2 separate regions of the Homo sapiens genome follow, and region 1 is linked to region 2. The links come from fine-mapping of genetic effects on gene expression. A gene starts in region 2. The other region holds a variant in brackets. All regions are shown on one strand. Distances are between the middles of the regions.

Region 1 (5,373 bases), 27 kb before region 2:
TAGGTGCCTAGTTTCTGTAAATCCATACTCTTTCCTAAGTCTAATGGAAGTCTACCAACTGAGAGATGTGTGCCTCTCTTCCCCCCAGGGGATGACACTATGAAATGCAGATCTTAGTCACCATCCCCTCTCACCTCCCTGTCATCTCTCAAGCAGATTCTGCTGACACAGGTTTAATGTTAAAGGAAGCCCATGGGGCATGTAGATGGACATTTCTGATGGCAGAGGGACTCCTCCTCTTTTTTGCCATGACTTACATGATAATATTATATGTACATTACTTGCTCAGGCATACCTAGAATTGTCAGATGCCCCAGTACTTTTTTTTCTGGAGACACAGTCTCACACTGTTGCCCAGGGTGCAGTGCCGTGGCATGATCTGGGCTCACTGCAACCTCCACCTCCCGGGTTCACGCAATTCTCCTGCCTCAGCCTCCCGAGTAGCTGGGACTACAGGTGCACGCCACCACACCCAACTAATTTTTTACTTTTTTTTTTAAGAGATGGGGTTTCACCAGGTTGCCCAGGCTGTCAATACTTTTTGGTGAAGTACGTTACTGAAATTCCCATCAGGAATTAGATGGGCTAATTAGATTAGATAAGGTAAACTGCCTAGTGGCTGGCTTTAACTCCACTTTTTTTCCTTCCACTCAAGAAGGCAAATTGAACAACAAATTAGATACCAAGGAGAGTAGCAGGGGACAGAACTAAGATACTAGGTTTTCTTCACCAGATGAAATATTCGGGGTCAGTTCTTCACACATAGTAGGTACTTATAAATTATGACCCATTGAATTATGGGTCTAGACCAATCTAAGTCTGTCCAGGGATAGTAGTGACAATACAGTCATGCATTGCTTAATGATGGGGATACATTTTTAGAAACACAGTGTTAGGTGATTTTGTCATACCAACATCATGGAGTATACTTACAGACATCTAGATGGTCTAGCCTACTACACACCTAGGTATATGGGATGACCTGTTACTCCTAGGCTACAAACCTGTACAGCATGTTACTGTACTGAATATTGTAGACAAATGTAACACAGTGACATTTGTATATCTAAACATAGAAAAGATACAGCATGACTATATCTTATTTATTTTTATTTTTTTTCTTTTTTCTTGCTCTGTTGCCCAGGCTAGAGTGCAGTGGCAGGATCATGGCTCACTGCAGCGTCAATCTTCTGGGCTCAAGTGATCCTCCTGCCTTAGCCTCCCAAGTAACTAGAATTGGCTGGGCGTGGCAGCTCATGCCTATAATCCCAGTACTTTGGGAGGCCGAGCCAGGTGAATCACCTGAGGTCAGGAGTTCAAGACCAAGTAGCTGGAACTACAAGCATGTGCTACTGTGTCTGGCTAATTTTTATATTTTTTGTAGAGACAGTGTTTTATCATGTTGCCCAAGCTGGTCTCAAATTCCTGGGCTCCAGCGATCCTCCCACCATGGCCTCCCAAAGTGTTGGGATTATAGGCATAAACGACTGTACCTGCCATTTTTTCTTTTTAAATACATGAAACATAGGCTTAGAGAGATTTGCCCATGGTCACAAGAGTTGGAAATCAAAATATTAAAACCCAGATTTGACTCCCTATCTATCAGTTGTTCTGTCTGAGGCTCTCTTTTTACTCAGTCTGTTTATTCTTCCTGGGTTATCTCATTCACACCCATGGCTTTGTTTGCCTCCTGGCTGTATGGTGATGACTCAAATCCCTGCACCACCCCTGACCTCTCTCCTGAGCTCATACCCATGAAGTCAACCATCTATTTGACATTTCTGCCTAAAATGGAGCTCATTATCTCCTCTCCCAAATTCCCTTTCTCAGCCTGGGTCTTCCTAGAATGGAGAGGTCCCTCACTAACTGAAGGCTGTGCTAGGCCACTAACTTCACAGGATGTAAATATTAAAAGAAGCAAACCAAACAGAAATTGAATCTCAGGAGACCAAATACTTAGAGTCTACATCCCAGGGAAGCTGGAGTGGATGCCCCACCATTTATCCTGGTGACCCAGTCCTTGTCCTTGAATGTGCACCATCCTTATCACCTCTCCTTTCTGGAGGTGGTGGAGGTCAGGGCAGAGAGGAGTCTTGTGTTTCACTTGGCATAGAGCTTAACAGAAAGGAGCTGCCTTCAAGATGAGTTGTTGCATAGAGGACTAGGAAGATAGAGGCTAATCTGAACTTCAGTTTTCTCCCACAGAAAATGGAGAAAACATGAGGGTAGATGAGATAGTATGTAGGAACACTCTTGGTTTGCTTCACATAGTGGGCTGTCATTCACTAATCATTGACTGCCTCTGAACCAGATAAAGTTCATCTCAGAGAAGCTAATTGAATTGCCCAAGGTCATATAGTTAATAAGGGTCATGGCTATGACTAGAGCCCAAAGTGAGTAAGTTTTTCACTAACTTAGATCCTAGAGACATCAATGG[TAA/T]AAAAAAAAAAAAAAAAAAAGAACAGCAAGGAGGCCGGGCGCGGTGGCTCACGCCTGTAATCCCAGCGCTTTGGGAGGCTGAGGCGGGTGGGTCACAAGGTCAGGAGTTCGAGACCAGCCTGGTCAACATGGTGAAACCCTGTCTCTACTAAAAATACAAAAAATTAGCCGGGCATGGTGGCACGTGCCTGTAGTCCCAGCCACTCAGGAGGCTGAGACAGAAGAATCGCTTGAACCCAGGAGGCGGAGGTTGCAGTGAGCCAAGATCGAGCCACTGCACTCCAGCCTGGGCGACAGAGCTAGACTTCGTCTCAAAAACACAAAACAAAACAAAAGAACAGCAAGGAACAACTTTATTGTCTGTTCATATATATAATTCTTACCATTTCTCCCCAGCTTCTAGCCAGAGGAAGGAAAAAGAGTCTAAAAATTTTGTGTTGATACCAATTTCTGTTTTTTATATGGGTAATTAACAGCTGAAAACAAAGCTGTTAATTGCCACTCTTATCAATGGGTGGTCTTTCATGTAGGTTTTTTAGATGTGAAGGGACAATGACATCACAGAAACTCTGTTTGTTTCCTCTTTGGCCAAGTTACGCTGGTCTGTCAAGACCCAGAGAGTTCTGGACAGCAGAGACTACAGATTGGGTCATAGTTTTGCCCAGAGCCTTCCCACTGATCCATATGGTGGGGTCCTCACGTTCCTCTTCCTCCAGCATTCACCATAGCCACACAAAGCTGAGTAGCCCCTTCCTTTTATACCTTTAACATTCATTAACTCAGACTTCTGAGGGACCACCTCTGTGGCAGTGGGGCAGTGATGTGTTGGTGAAGGCACAAGACCAGGAAACTGGTTTGACTCTGGGATCTATGACCTTGGGCAAATCATGCCCCTCCCTTCCCGTCGGGCTTCAGCCTCATACTCTGTAAAGTAAAGGTATTGGAAAAAATTATCTAGATTCTCTCTAGCCCTCCCATTCTGTGACCTTTTTCTTTTCAGAGATGTTTTCTGAGTCTCTACAAGGTGACAAAGATGAAGTAGACCTCATCCCTTCCCTTCATTAACTCACAGTGCAGTTTAATTTACAACTTTATTACTTTCTTGATATGCAAACTGATTAACCTGCCCCAGTTTTCTCATTTGAAAAATTGGGGTGACACCTATATGGAAGAGTTATTGTAGAGGTATAAATAATGTATAAACAAATATACAGCTACTGTATAAACACAACATAGTACCTGACATTATTAGGCCCTGAGTGGTTGTTATTGATATATAGTTGTTTTTCCAGCAACTGCGGAGGTTTCTGAGAGCCAAACTTAGACATCCCTGTGACCCCATCCCTCTCCTTCTGCCCAGTGATCAGCACACCTGGGTTTGTCTGGCCAGATGCATTGTAGCCATATCTCTCTGTGTGTCAGTAGCTGTCCTCCCTGGAGAGGGAGTCTGTGTGACCTTGGATTCATAACCCTCAGTCCTAACTGGCCCAGCGCATTAGCCTGTCCAAAGGAATTGGCTTCTTTGAGCTAGCAGGTGCCAGGAGCTATCAGTAGGGTAGCCTCTGGTGCAGCTTTCTGACTGGCTTTGTCTTTAACATATACTCACTAAAATAACTCTGAAAGCAAAATAAAAAGCATCTTCCCATCTTCCGAGCCTAAGACCTTTATAGCTTGGGGCAGAGATAACCAGATGCCTTGGTAGAGAACGGGCCTGACCTGGTCCTCACTTGCCTTTCTGTGCACTGAATCTGTCCTAATTTATCCTCTGCCTGCCCAGTGACATCATTTCTCTTTCCTTCTTCTCTTCTTTAAGGCACACTCAGGTTCCCTGTCTTGAAAACAACCTCTTGACCCTAATCCTACCATTTGCAGGAGGGAGGCATCCTGGAAAATAGAGCTTTGGGCTTGGAGTTAGGAGACTTGCATTCAAATTCTGTCTGTGCCACTGGCTTATATGACCTTTAGCAAGTCATGTAATCTCTCTGAGCCTGTTTTCTCCTGTTTAGGATGGATTTAATAGGATGGACCTATTCTTTTTTTTTTTTTTTTTGAGACAGAGTTTTGCTCTGTCACCCAGTCTAGAGTGCAGTAGTGCGATCTCGGCTCACTGCAAGCCCCGCCTCCCGGGTTCATGCCATCCTCCTGTCTCAGCCTCCGGAGTAGCTGGGACTACAGGCACTTGCCACCACGCCCAGCTAATTTTTTTGTATTTTTAGTAAAGACGGGGTTTCACCGTGTTAGCCAGGATGGTCTCAATCTCCTGACCTCGTGATCCACCCGCCTTGGCCTCCCAAAGTGCTGGGATTACATGCGTGAGCCACCATGCACGGCCTAGGATGGACCTATTCTAAGGGATGGTTTTGAGGCGTCAGTGCACCTAGAAGAGCCTTTGGTACATAATAGGTGCTGAGTAAGTGACAGATTACCCAGTTTTTGTGACATCATAATTATGGGCCCTTTTCCTGCCCCTCTATTCCTCATTGTCACTTTTCCCCAACTGCAGTACCCTCTGATCTCTGGCTTTCTTCTCTCCTGCTCAGGACCTCATCTATTCCAGCCCAGTGGACACAGCTCACAAGGTACTGATTAGCCTGAGGACCTTCCTGAGGAGGAATGAGGATATCCAAGTGGGCGGTCTTATCCGAGGCCACTTCCTGCTGATCCTGCAGCGTCTGCTAGTGGAGCATGGGGCATCCCCATCAGGAGGTCAGTCTGCAGGTGCTGTGGGCACACTTTGACCTGAAAGCCAGTCGAGAATGGGCATCTCTACCCTTGTTAGGTCTGCTCCAGGAGAGAGAATCAGGGTTTTATCTGAAAAAGAAAGCCAGGCCATTGTGGCATCAAGCTAAACTTCACCTCCTTTCTCTCACTGCAGAGTGGGCGTACAACATGCTTGGTTTGCTGTGTGTGTGTTTAACATGAGTGGATGTGTTT
Region 2 (5,373 bases):
CACCGAACTCAGAAAGGAGCTAGTCCTTCCCCCATGAGCTTTGGAGACAGTTGTCCAAGCGCAGTTGGTTCAAGTGATCCTCAGCCCAACACACACACACACACACACACACACACACACACACACACACACACACACACACATAGTGTGTGTCTCTGTGACTGCCATGTTCTTAAGAAAGCTTGGATGGCCAGGTGCACACACACACACACACACACAATGTGTGTGTGTCTGTGTGACTTCCATGTTCTTAAGAAAGCTTGGATGGCCGGGTGCAGTGGCTCACGCCTGTAATCCCAGCACTTTGGGAGGCCAAGGTGGGCAGATCACCTGAGCTCAGGAGTTTGAGACCAGCCTGGCCAACATGGTGAAACCCCATCTCTACTAAAAAATACAAAAATTAGCTGGGCGTGGTAGCATGAGCCTGTAATCCCAGCTACCCAGGAGGCTGAGGCAGGAGAATCACTGGAACCTGGGAGGCAGAGGCTGCAGTGAGCCAAGATCGCGCCACTGTACTCCAGCCTGGGCAACAGACCAAGACTCCGTCTCAAAAAAAAAGAAAGCTTGGGGGCCGGGCGCAGTGGCTCACACTGTAATCCCAGCCAAGGTGAGTGGATCACTTGAGGTCAGGAGTTCTGAGACGAGCCTGGCCTACATGGTAAAACCCCATCTCTACTAAAAATACAAAAATTAGCCGGGCATGGTGGTGCATGCCTGTAATCCAAGCTACTTGGGAGGATGAGGCAGGACAATCACTTGAACCTGGGAGGTGGAGATTGCAGTGACCAGAGAGCCGAGATTGTGCCACTGCACACTCCAGCCTGGGTGGCAGAGTGAGACTATGTCTCAAAAAAAAAAAAAAAAAGCAAGCTTGGGGCTGTGGCAGTGGTCAGAGACCCTCTGGTAGGTGGCTGGTTGCACCCAGAGACACTGCAGTCCAGAGATACTGCAGTCCAGAGGTGTGTGTGAGGGTAGTTTGCTTCCTCTGCACCCCTCTGGCTGCCTCCCTGGCTCTCTTCCTTGCCCCTTCCGTGCAATAGTTCCCTGTTGAATAGCAACTACCTAGCCCAGGTGTTCAGGACCCAATTTCAGAATCCATCCCACTATTCTCAGGAGCACTTCTGTTCTTGCCTGACCATTCTTGACTGTTTTGGGCTCTGGAAGTGTGATGCCCCCATGGTTGGCCCCACTTCTCTGCTGTTTTCCTCTCATGTTTTGCTGCCAGCTGCCTGGGAGGGGTGGCTGTATCCCTGTCCCACATCAGAAACTGATCCTCAGGACTTGAAGGCCCAGAAGTGGAGAGAGAATGAGACCTGGAGACAAAGGGCATAATTGTTGGGGAAATGGATGACAGCTGAAGCTATTCATATGGAGCCATATACTCTATTGTTGAAATAGAATAAGGAAATAAAATGATACACTCACATACCTGCGCGAGCTCTCCAAAAACACTGTACTACCTTGTCTACCAGGAGCTGGTTTCTCAGCCAGTTGGATAAGGGATTGTTTCAGCAAGGAGACTGATGGCCTCCTCAGGGAAGGAGGGACGGGACAGGATTTGTTCTTGTAACAGCATTCAAGGAGTCAGCTGGGTGCCTCAGCTGTACTCAGAGAACACCAGTCAGGCCATCCTGGGGCTGGCAGGGCAGAGAAAGGCCTAGGGGTTGGGGCTGCTGCGATTCAACAGCTCCCAGAGGCACTTGACCTGCTCCCTCGCCTCACGTGGAGGTGGATAGAGGTAAACTTTCCAGGCAAGGAGGGTCAAATTCTCAGCTTTCCTATCAGAACGAAACTGTCCCAGCCTCAGCCCTTGTCTGGCTAAAGTAGGTCACCTCTGTCCCTTCCCGTACAGCCGTCATCAGAACTGGTGTTTATGCACCCTCGTGGGTAGATCCTGGGAATGCATGTCCAGCTTGGTCCCCGGCATGAGGTCTGCGCTCGACAGTGCCTGCCCTGCGCCTGTTCTGGGGAGCTCAGCCCAGACCGGGCCTCCAGCTCCCTTCCCGCCCGGCAGGGGCCCCGGGCCCGGAGATGGCCACGCCACGCTGCCTTCTCGGGTCTGACTGTCCTGATCCTGCGCAAAAGTGGGGCTGCACTCGGCCTAACGAACGGACGAGGAAGCCCCCGCCGCACTTGGCTTATTAGTTGGTGGACCGGAGGGGCAAGGAGGGGATGCCCGAATCCTGCACTGAGTCTCTGAGGTCCTTAAAGAAGAACAAAAGTGCTAGTCACCGCCCACTAAACTCACGTTGCGATCTAAAGTTTAAAAACTCGGCCACAGACGACGACACAGTTTCAGGGAGGGCGCGCAGAAGGTCGCCCGGCCGACAGGAGCTGGGACCCCAGTTTGCTGATTCACGCCTTAAATTGGGCACAGACCCCACCCACAGATTTAACTTCCTCCAACACAAGCTAAATCCAGGGCCACGTACCCAGGGCCCGCAGGAGGGACAGGACGAGGATGGTGCCCACAGCGCGCTGGAGGCACGCCAGAGCCTGGAGGGGCAGGCAGGGGCGGTGGAGCGGGGCCGGAAGTGAGGCTAGCGGAGCCCCGCAGTGGCGGCTCGCGCTCATTGGCCGGGAGCAGCGCGGTGGGCGGGACGGAGCTCGGCGGTCTGCGCTCGGTTGCTAGCCGTTTGCTCCCGCTTTCAGTTGCTTTGCTGTTAGCCTGTTGGACCTTCGAGCCTAGCTGCTCGCACAGGACTCGGCCACCTGCCCTTCCTGCACCGACTGGCCAGGTAGGTGGCTGTAGGGGCCGCGGGCTGCAGGTTCCCGGGAAGGATAATGAGAGAACCGAGGGCCTCGAACCGGCTGCAGGTGGTGGGGAGGGAGTTTCGTGGACCTGGACGCCTCTGTTCCTTGAGAAGGCTCGCTCCCTCCTCCGGGAGCTCCGAAGGCTCGGGGTCAACCACCTGGGCCCCCGACCCCGGTAGCTGGCTCAAGGCCCGCCACTACCTGGTACCTCTGCAGGAGTTCAGAGCCTCATGCTGAGCCAGGAGGAGCTCCGGGTGACGCATACGGCAGGATCGGGATTGAGAGGCTGAAAAAGTGAGTTTAACAGTAGAGAAAGCAGGACCTGTCCCGCAGGCTGCTGTTCTGGCTTTTCTTTCCCACTACCTGCTTCAGTCATTGCCAGCTGTCTGGTATTCTCCTTGGCCCCTAAAGTTTTGCCCTAGCCTGGTTCTGGTTCCCTTGAGTTTGGAGCAGGAGGTGGAATGTGGAGGGTCCTGGGTGAACTTGGACTATTCCTTCTCTAGGTTTCACTTATCTCGTCTGCTTGGGGGTAGGGGGTTCTCCGGATGATCTCTGCAGCCCCTCACTGTCTGTAACTGAGCATCTCTCCCCTGGGGCAGGTGTCCTGGTAGTTCAGTAGCCAGCTCTGATCTCAGGTAGCCTGTGCTCATTTACAAAGAGTCAGAAGACAGAGCACTGGACTTAGAGCCAAACAGACACTTGGTTCAGCCTGGGAATAGCTGTGTGACTTTGGGCAGTCACCTCATTTTTCTGTGCCTTGATTTCACATTGGTAACATTGGGGAGTTGTAATCTGAGTGTGAGACCTCTCCTGACCACTTTATGTAATCTTGTACCTGACCGACACCCTCTCATCCCTCTGTGCTTATTTTACAAGTTTATTGATCAACTCTTATCCCTACTAGAGACAAGTACCATGAGTGCAGAGATTTTTGCTTATTTATTGCTGTATTCCCGCCTCTAGAACAGTGCCTAGAGTGTGGTAGGTACTGTCAACCTAAATAGCAGAGTGAGAGACTCTAAAAAAATGATGTTTACTTGGGAATAGACATTGTAGTGACAATATGTGTGCCATAGTAACCTGTGTACGTATTTGGGGAGGTAAAGGAAGACAAAGGTTTTGAAAAGGAAAAATGAGGATTACATGATTATTTTGAGATAGTTATCCTTGGCTACAAGGATGAATAGCAAGAGTGGTGCTAGTCTGAGGTTGGACAGGCAGTTGCAGGGCAGATGTCCTCACAGAAAGATTTTTCTGTGTAAGTTTGCAGTGGCCTTTGTGCAGGGTTGTGGTTTTTGCATTTTTTGTGATCTTGTTATCAGTCATTTGTGCATAAGAACCCTCTTTTCACAACCTTCCTCGGTTTTATTTGTCAGAGTTGTTGTTCTTGTTTTTTCCCATTGGAGAATCATGCTTTAAATTTGTCAGAGTTTTTAACACAAACGACTCTGTTTTGATTCTAACAACTTTCATATTTCCCCCTTTTGGTCAAGATCTTTCTCCAAAAACTTTACTGATCAGTCATCCTGTAGTTAGGTCCCTCAGTGCTGGGACGGACCTATCTTGGGTTGTTGGTCTCTTGCCATGTTGGAGACTAGGAGTCTCCAGTTGGAGACTGGTGACTAGGAGTCAGTGTCAAAACCCTTGTAGTGGTTGGGAGCAGGGGCTCACGTCTGTAATCCCAGTACTTTGGGAGGTCAAGGAGGGAGTATCACTTGAGTCCAGAAGTTCAAGACCAGCCTGGGCAACCGCCAAGGCGGGCGGATCACCTGAGGTTGAGAGTTCGAGACCAGCCTGACCAACATGAAGAAACCCGTCTCTACTAAAATACAAAAATATATATAAATAACATCCGGGCGCGGTGGCTCACACCTGTAATCCCAGCGCTTTGGGAGGCCGAGGCAGGCGGATCATGAGGTGAGGAGATCGAGACCATCCTGGCTAACACGGTGAAACCCCATCTCAACTAAAAATACAAAAAATTAGCCGGGCGTGGTGGCAGGTGCCTGTAGTCCCAGCTACTTGGGAGGCTGAGGCAGGAGAATGGCGTGAACCCAGGAGGCAGAGCTTGCAGTGAACCGAGATCGCACCACTGCACTCCAGCCTGGGCGACAGAGCAAGACTCTGTCTCAAAAAAATAAAAAATAAAAAAATAAAAAATAAATAAAATAAAATACAAAAATTAGCCGGGCGTGGTGGCACATGCCTGTAATCCCAGCTACTAGGGAGGCTGAGGCAGGAGAATCGCTTGAACCTGGGAAGTGGAGGTTGCGGTGAGCCGAGATCGCACCATTGCACTCCAGCCTGGGCAACAAGAGCGAAACTCCGTCTCAAAAAAAAAAAGTTATCTGGGCATTGGTTGGGGAGTGTGCGGGAGTCAGTTGGGTAGAGGATCACTTAAGCCCAGGAGTTTCAGGTTATAGGGAGCTATGATTGTACCGCTGCACTCCAGCGTGGGTGACAGAGCGAGACCCTGCCTCAAAAAACCCCAAATACCTTTTAGCCACATTTGAGCAGCAAGGGAGGTTTGGAAGGAGTGGCTCTCAAGGTATGTCTACCTGGAGTTCATTGTTAAGTTCAATTTTGGCTGTTCCATAGGCATTTGCTGTCATTGCAAAC

Which allele goes with the higher level. Alleles are on the strand shown, and positions count from the first base shown. SD is a standard deviation of normalised expression in the study named.
In carriers of allele TAA in region 1, the expression in monocytes of the gene that starts at base 2,651 in region 2 tends to be lower than with T alone (small effect, 0.38 SD a copy in Quach 2016).

What was found. PIP is the estimated chance that this variant, and not a neighbour inherited with it, causes the effect.
Region 1: its variant is fine-mapped to the expression of CCDC134 in monocytes (Quach 2016, PIP 0.95).

Annotation. Positions count from the first base shown.
Region 1 is chr22:41,771,123-41,776,495 of GRCh38, forward strand. MEI1 (meiotic double-stranded break formation protein 1) reads left to right here. Exons shown (of 31, transcript NM_152513.4): 21 at 4,980-5,145. Among named protein-coding and RNA genes, the nearest start is that of CCDC134, 27 kb to the right of the region's middle. The variant TAA/T (reference allele first, on the strand shown) is at 2,438.
Region 2 is chr22:41,798,029-41,803,401 of GRCh38, forward strand. CCDC134 (coiled-coil domain containing 134) reads left to right here and starts at 2,651. Exons shown (of 7, transcript NM_024821.5): 1 at 2,651-2,738. It overlaps MEI1 (meiotic double-stranded break formation protein 1), which reads left to right. Exons shown (of 31, transcript NM_152513.4): 31 at 1,226-1,426. The coding sequence ends at 1,271. RefSeq lists enhancers at 1,472-2,458, 2,234-2,313, 2,384-2,463 and silencers at 1,934-2,023, 2,614-2,673.